2 linked regions of the Homo sapiens genome follow. The protein of the gene in region 1 purifies or fractionates together with the protein of each later gene. This does not show direct contact. Each region holds a gene or a part of one and is shown on either strand. Other genes may lie near its edges.

The links.
Region 2: the proteins of IGFBP7 (region 1) and GGH purify together in Homo sapiens (co-immunoprecipitation; one large-scale study listed by IntAct). This does not show direct contact.

Annotation. Positions count from the first base shown.
Region 1 is NC_000004.12:57,033,802-57,037,628, forward strand, and holds part of IGFBP7 (insulin-like growth factor-binding protein 7 isoform 1 precursor), read right to left. Parts: intron 1-3,827. UniProt on the Homo sapiens protein: Binds IGF1 and IGF2 with a relatively low affinity. Stimulates prostacyclin (PGI2) production. Stimulates cell adhesion. Acts as a ligand for CD93 to play a role in angiogenesis.
Region 2 is NC_000008.11:63,018,125-63,021,951, forward strand, and holds part of GGH (gamma-glutamyl hydrolase isoform 1 precursor), read right to left. Parts: intron 1-3,827. UniProt on the Homo sapiens protein: Hydrolyzes the polyglutamate sidechains of pteroylpolyglutamates. Progressively removes gamma-glutamyl residues from pteroylpoly-gamma-glutamate to yield pteroyl-alpha-glutamate (folic acid) and free glutamate.

The sequences.
Region 1 (3,827 bases):
ATGATTTACTGAACACCTAAGATAAAAAACACCTATCAAAGGAGTTCGAGACCAGACTGACCAACATGACAAAACCCTGTCTCTAGTAAAAACACAAAAATTAGCCGATTGTGTTGGCGAGCACCCGTAGTCCCAGCTACTCTGGAGGCTAAGGTGGGAGAATTGCTTGAACCTGGAGGCGGAGGTTGCAGTGAGCTGAGATCGCGCCACTGCACTGCAGCCTGGGCAACAGAGTGAGACTCCATCTCAAAAAAAAAAAAAAAAAAACAGCTGTCAAATACATGTGCTGTCATTGTTCTTTTATGACAAAACTTGCTGACTGTTTCTGTGTATGTCATGTCAAGATTCAGAAGAAACTCAGTTTCTTTGGTGCAAGGCCAATACTGAATAGTATCCTTTTTGCCCTCATTTTAAAAGGCAAAATGTTTTATTATATAAACTCTGGAAAATATACAAAAGAATGAAATTCACTTGTAGCTCCTCGATACATATACATTTAGCAGCTGAGTTACAGAGTACAAATATTTTAAGCCTTGTGATAATGGTGAGTTTTAAAAAAAAAAGGATATACGAATTGTTTGTTCATTCCATCCCAGATCTCCTTTAAGAGCCAACCTGACATTTATTGATATTACCTTTGTAATTAGAAAGGATTTACAACCTCAAATAGCTAGTTTCCTTTTCATTTTCTTCTATAATAAAGCAAATCTTAATAAAGACCAGATAATAGTGTGTATATATAGACACCGTATGTATAAATATAATAAATATATAAATAAATATATACACTTTATTAACTTCCATCTCAGTGTTGCTTTTCCCATGTGGATCCCACTCCTACCATGTGTTTTTTGGTACTCTGCTGTTGTGTCGGCTTCAAACCTACACTGTATTTTCTCAGCTTTATGATGCCAGGACTGGGATTCAGCAAACCACATGTGATCTAGGCCAATTCCTGCTCTAGAAAAAATATCTTGCATGATTTGGAAAGCCTGGCTTTTTGCATTTTTTTTCTGGAATTTTCCCACATTGCCACTATTAGTGAGAGAAAACCACGTAACTTAATGTCTTTCTCATAAATGCTGTGAAGACAAACATACTCAATAGGTACCTTTTCCCTTAGTTTCCCAAGTAGCTGGCAGAAACGGTTTATGCTAATACAGCTTTTGAAATAGTTACTTAAAAATGGGTTGTAAGAATATTTTGGTAGAAGTATTAATTTGATCCAAGGTCTCAAGTAATATGACTCTGACCTTTATTTACTGAATTTCAGAATCATATGAGTTTTATGTGTGACCAAAGCAAGAAAATAAACACTGCAGCACTGAAATACTGAATCTCAGCAACTAAGCCTCAAATCCCATAGCTCTTAGTAACAGCATTTTATGCTAATTAACCTGATCCACTATGGAAAGGGAAATGTATCTTGTTAAATATAATATTTAACATAAATCACAATATAGATATACTTTATTTTTCCCTTCTTTTCACAAGTGTTGGCATGGCGTATTTTAATTAATGTTACGTAATTATAAAAGGTTATACATCATGTAGAAAACATAGAAAAAAGTGCCAAGAATTTTCATATGACAAATTTTTATATGTCAAACTCTCCCTTATTCGTGTAAGGGGATTCTAAGTGTTGTTAAGTATGTGTTTTCTTTTTTTTTTGAGACAGAGTCTCGCTCTGTCACCCAGGGTGGAGTGCAGTGGTGCGATCTCAGCTCACTGCAACCTCTGCCTCCGCCTCCGGGATTCCAGTGATTCTCCTGCCTCAGCTTCCCGAGTAGCTGGGATTACAGGCATGTGCCACCACGCCTGGCTAATTTTTATAGTTTTAGTAGAGACGGGGTTTTGCCATATTGGCCAGGGTGGTCTCGAACTCCTGACCTTAAGTGATCCACTTGCCTTGGCCTCCCAAAGTGCTGGGATTACAGGCATGAGCCACTGTGCCTGGCCAATAAATATGTGTTTTCTAGTTAAAATTGGAATTAAAACTAAAAAAGAGAGGTTAATATTCAGTGCTAGTAAAGATGCAGAGAAATGGCACTTCTCCATTTCTGGTGGGAGTGTGAATTACTACAATCTATTTAGAAAGTAATCTGACAATGTCTGTTAACACTGAAACAAATATTTTGACTTAGGTAACTGTTGGGGAATCTATCTTATAGCAATACAATCACTAGTATGTATGATATGTGTACTTTGATGCTTAAAGTAGGTTTTTTAAGTTAACAAAAATTTGGAAACAACAGAAAAAATACAGAACTGATTTAATAAATTACAGTATTCATACTTGGAATATTACGTAGCTGTTGAGAAGCAGACTTGGACGGATGTCCATGAAGTATTTGTTGAGAAAAGCGAGTTTCAGAATAATTTACTGGCACACTATATTCTCATTTCACCGTAGGGATATATGTTTGAATATGCTTGGATATGAAAAAGAGTGTGGAAAGATACAAACCAGGGCAGTTCACATTGGTTACCTCAGGCAGGAGGAGGAGGTGGGGGGAGATTCTCAACTCTTTCTTTATACGTCTTTGGATAATTTCTGCTTATTACTATTACCTTAGAGGTCACTATTTTTGATTAAAAAATATTCTTAGAGGTCAAGGAAGCCCTAATCTGAAGAAATATTCAGGCAAGAAAAGAATTAAACAGAGAGCCTCTCCGTCTCAGAAACAAATATTGGGAAGGTGTTTTGCTTTCGCTGTGAGCATCATCTTTGATTTAAAAGGGTTAAGTCAAATATGGCTATTTCAGTTCACGTTCCCATTTCAAAATATTGCCCTTCGAATCTTTCTAGGCTAGGAGTTTGCTGAAAGGTATGGGGCTTGTTAAAGCCAGCTTTCCTTACTACCAGTAAGGAAAGTAAAGACCACTCGCCAGGCTGTGCCAACCGTAAGAATTGCCACCGTAGTCTCAAGTGTCATGGAGAAAAGGCTTGTACCATTAATTCTGCTGTTGCTAAGAATCCTTGAGCAAGAAGGACATGCTGTCTTTATTTGAGCCTCAGTTTCTCTTGTTTTACAAGTGAGGATTCTAATAATCTATCCAAAAAGGTGTTCTACTCTTAAATTGGATTTGAAACACACATGATAGTAAATATGTTTGTATTCTTAACAGTCTGGTTACAAGGACAGCGATGAGAAAACAAATACCCTGTTTAATTATTTAGGTCAGTGACTTCCCAAGTTTCCTTAGTTTTGACATGGACCAAACTATCGTATATCTGGAATATACAAAAGTTTTAGGAAATGACACCTTCATAAGTGGTAAGTGTGATGCCTTAACATAGGTTCTGTTCTATTTTTTATTTTTTATAAGAACATGGTGGTTGTGATCGCTACATTAGTTCCAGGAGTCACTGATGGGTCATGGTCTGCAGTGTAAGAAACATTGCTTTGGGTCATGCATGTGGCAAATTACATTATGAAGGTAGAGGAAAACCGGCAGAGCATCACAGTTGGGTTTTGCTTGTTCTGGAAAGTCTGCAGAAAAAATTGTTTCTCTCCTACTTCCTCTTCACTTCTTTACTTCAGCACCCATCTCGTTGACTGACATAGTGGGTTTTTTGGTTTTTTTTTTCAGAGACAGGATCTTGCTCTGTTGCCCAGGCTGGAGTGCAGTGGTGCCATCATAGCTCACTGCAGCCCCACCTTTTGAGCTCAAGCGATCCTCCCACCTCAGCCTCCCGAGTGGCTAGGGACTACAGGTGCGAGCCACCACACCAGCCTCAACTGCCTTGGTGTTTCTGACTAGCCCTGAGGACAAGCACTCAGGGAGGCCTTGTCTATTGGGATCTGCCCTGTACAGTCCTAAAA
Region 2 (3,827 bases), on another chromosome or scaffold:
GTATAAATTTTTAAAATATTTTTTAGAAGTTTAAAAGCAGACATAAAACAAGAAGGGAAACAGAGCTGTTGACAATTGTCAAAGCTGATAGATAGACACCCAGGGTTCATATTACTCTCTCTATGTTTACATACTCATGAACAATTCCACAATTCAAAAAAAAAGTGAATATGTGTAATAGTTACCTTCAGAAAAATGTACATATTTGTCTCTTCTTCAGATGTGCCTTTCCTCATTTTGATTTAAAAAAAACAAATCTCCCCTCTATTATTTTCTGCTTTGGAATTGTAACCATGACCACCATCAGAAAGTACTTGGAGAAATGAAGTGAATTAATGAAAGAAGAGATATCTAGGGGTAAGAGCACTGTCTGTTCTCATCCCAGTAAGCTTTCTGACTAGAGAGCAGGCCACAGAAGGGAAACATTTTATCCCAGTTTTGTGGGTATTCACGAGAGGAAACACCTGCCTCATGCAGCTCCAGGCACTCAGCTCCCTGCCTCCCCCACTTCCGTGTGACACTGCCGTTTTTCCCCTCTATTCTGGGACTACCTGTGAAGCTACCAGCAAGAGACCCACAGGCTGGGGGACTAGGAAATTGTTACATAGAGTTAATTGAAAGGCAGACCTTCTAGTATATTGGATATAAATCTTTTTTATGATTTAAGACTATTTTTGTCCTCAATAATGCTTCATGCGTTGGAAAAGATACATATATATAAGAAATCTTCAAAAAGCTCATGGAAAACGTGTATTATGAAAAAAATTATGCAAGGATTTCACCATTTTTTTGCACCAAAATAAACTTGTAGTAACTTGTATGAACAGGATCCAGTATGAGGCACTAAGAAGGACAAGACATCAGTTTTAAAAGAACCCCTGTAACAGCAATATGAATTTTGCTAAAATTGAAGGCAGAAAAAATAGCAAATTTACGGTGAAGCTTGGATGGAAGAATGGTAAAACCGCTGATGCTTTACAAAAAATTTATGGGGATAATGTCCCAAAGAAATCAGCAGTTTACAAATGGATAACTTGTTTCAAGAAGGAATGAAACAATGTTGAAGCCCTCAGGGCAGACTATTCACATCAATTTGCCAGGAAAATATGTATCTTGTTCGTGTCTTAACTGAAGAAGATCGCAAATAAACAGCAGAACCAACAGCCAATACCACAGACATCTCAGTTGGGTCAGCTTACACAATCCTGACTGAAAAATTAAAGTTGAGCAAACTTTCCATTCGATCGGTGACAAAACCATTGCACACAGATCAGCTGCAGACAAGAGAAGAGCTTTCAATGGACATTTTTAACAGGTGGGATCAAGATCCTAGAGCATTACTTTGAAGAACTGCCACTGCAGATAAAACACGGTTTTACCAGTATGAACCTGAAAACACAATCAAAGCAATGGCTACCAAGAGATGGAAGTGGTCCAGTCAAAGCCAAAGTGAACTGGTCAAGGGCACAGGTCATAATGTTTTTTTGGATGCTCCAAGGCATTTTGCTTGTTGATTTTCTGGAGAACCAAAGAACAGTAACGTTTGCTTTTTATGTGTTTTCAGAAAGTCAGCCAAAGCTTTAGCAGAAAATCGCCCAAGAAAGCTTCACCAGAGTCCTTCTCCAGCATGACAATGTTCCTCCTCATTCCTTTCATCCGAGGGCTATTTAGTGAGCATTTTGATGGGAAGCCATTAGGACCTTATGGTCCTGATTTGGCTCCTTCTGACTTATTCTTGTTTCCTAATCTTAAAAAAATCTTTAAAGGGCACTCATTTCTGTTAATAATGTAAAAGACCGCATTTGACGTGGTTCAATTCACAGGACCCTCAGTTCTTTAGGGATGAACTAAAAGGTTGGTATCATCATGGGCAAAAGTGTCTTAAACTTGATAGAGCTTATTTTGAGAAATAAAGTTTACAGTTTTTATTTTTATATTTTAATTCCATTTTTCCCACAAACTTTTTGAAGTCACTGACATTCAGTAACGAGTGAGATTTACTCTTCTTTAGTAAACTGCATTACTAAAAGACCAGTGCAGTTTCCTGAAAACTAGGAATCATGCCCTGCCTCACTGATTTAGACAGAAGTATCAAGAGTGGAAAGAAAATATGCAAATAATAAAGCATCTCAAGTGTTCCTATTTTGGAGGTGGGAGAAAATTTTCAAATGAGCCTGGTATGGCATAGTCAAAAGCAGAACCAACATGGAACCTGATTTCCTAACTTCCAATCCAATATTCTATCATTTAAATAATTAGGCATTCATTCAACATCTATGAGCCCTAGAAACACAAAGGAGAGTAAGATACAGTTCCTGATCTCAACAAGCTTTTCATCTAGAGGGATGACAGAACAAGAGCAAATACATGCATTAAGAAACGTTCCCACACAGCACAAAGCACCAAGGTTGTGGAGAAGAGGAATAATGGTAGAAAAGGCCTCTAGGGATGACAAGTGGCCTGGGTTTTTCGAGATGGCTAAGAGTTCATCAGGAGAAAGGAATAGGGGAAAGGGGGAGCTTTTCAGAGAAGAGGAAAGCACATGAGAAGCAGTGCAGAGGCAAGAAGCATGGCTCTGTGGAGGGACTGTGTGTAGCAAACAGGTCGTGCAGGGTACAAGCTAGAGGTGAAGGCAGGGAGAGGGCATGAGGAAATAAGCTCATAAATCTAGACTTCATCCTCCAATGCAGAGGAGCCACTGAGGAGTTTTGTTCAGGCAATACTATCAGACTGGCACTTCAGCAGACCACGAGTGGGTGGCTGGAAGATGGGTTTGTGGAAGCCTTAAGAGGCTGCTGCTGCAGCAATCCAGGTGGCAGGTGGTTAATGCTGATGTAGCAAGGTACATCGGATTGGGAGGACGAAACATGATTAATACTTCCAAAGCCCTTCTACTGTCCCTCCCACCCCTTCAGCCCAGTGAGAAGGACTCTCATAATTATTCATCACCCCAACCTTTCCTTAGATTTACCACCGAACATTGTTTCTTTTTTGCCAAATTTTAATCATCATATAAATGAAAACATACAGCATGTATTCCCTTGTGACTTGCTTCTTTAACTCAAAATTGTCTTCATGATTCATTCAGTGGTACATGCAGGTGTGTTCACTGATTTTAATAGCTGTATAGTATTACTTATCCTTTGCACTACTGGACTTTTGAGTTGTTTTCCATTTTTTTGCTGGTATGAACAAAATGTCACGTACATTTCTATCTACATGAAATTATTTCATTAAGATATTTTTTAACCAATGAATAAAACTGCCAGGTAACAAAACTGGAAAATGTTTGATTTTACTAAGAAATGCCAAAATGTTTTCCAATCGTAAGTGCATGACAGCACCTGCTGTGCGACATCCTGGGTAACACTAGTTATCAGCAGGCTTCTTAATTTCGCCAATCTGATGGGTATAAATGGTTTTTTACTTTGGTTTCCATTTGCATTCCCTGATCAGAAATTACACTGAGCAACTTATCTCACCAAGCCATAAGTGGACAGGACAATCAAGTTTTTTTGGATGGTATCCATTCAAATCTCATATCCTTTTTTTTTTTTTTTTTTTTTTTGAGGCAGAGTCTCGCTCTGTCACCCAGGCTGGAGTGCAGTGTGCAATCTCAGCTCACTGAAACCTCCGCCCACTAGGTTCAAGCAATTCTCCTGCCTCAGCCTCCCAAGTAGCTGGGATTACAGGCGTGCGCCACCACGCCTGGCTAATTTTTATATTTTTAGTAGAGACGGGGTTTCGCCATGTTGGCCAGGCTGGTCTCAAACTCCTGACCTCAAGAAATCTGCCTGCCTTGGTCTCTGAAAGTGCTGGGATTACAG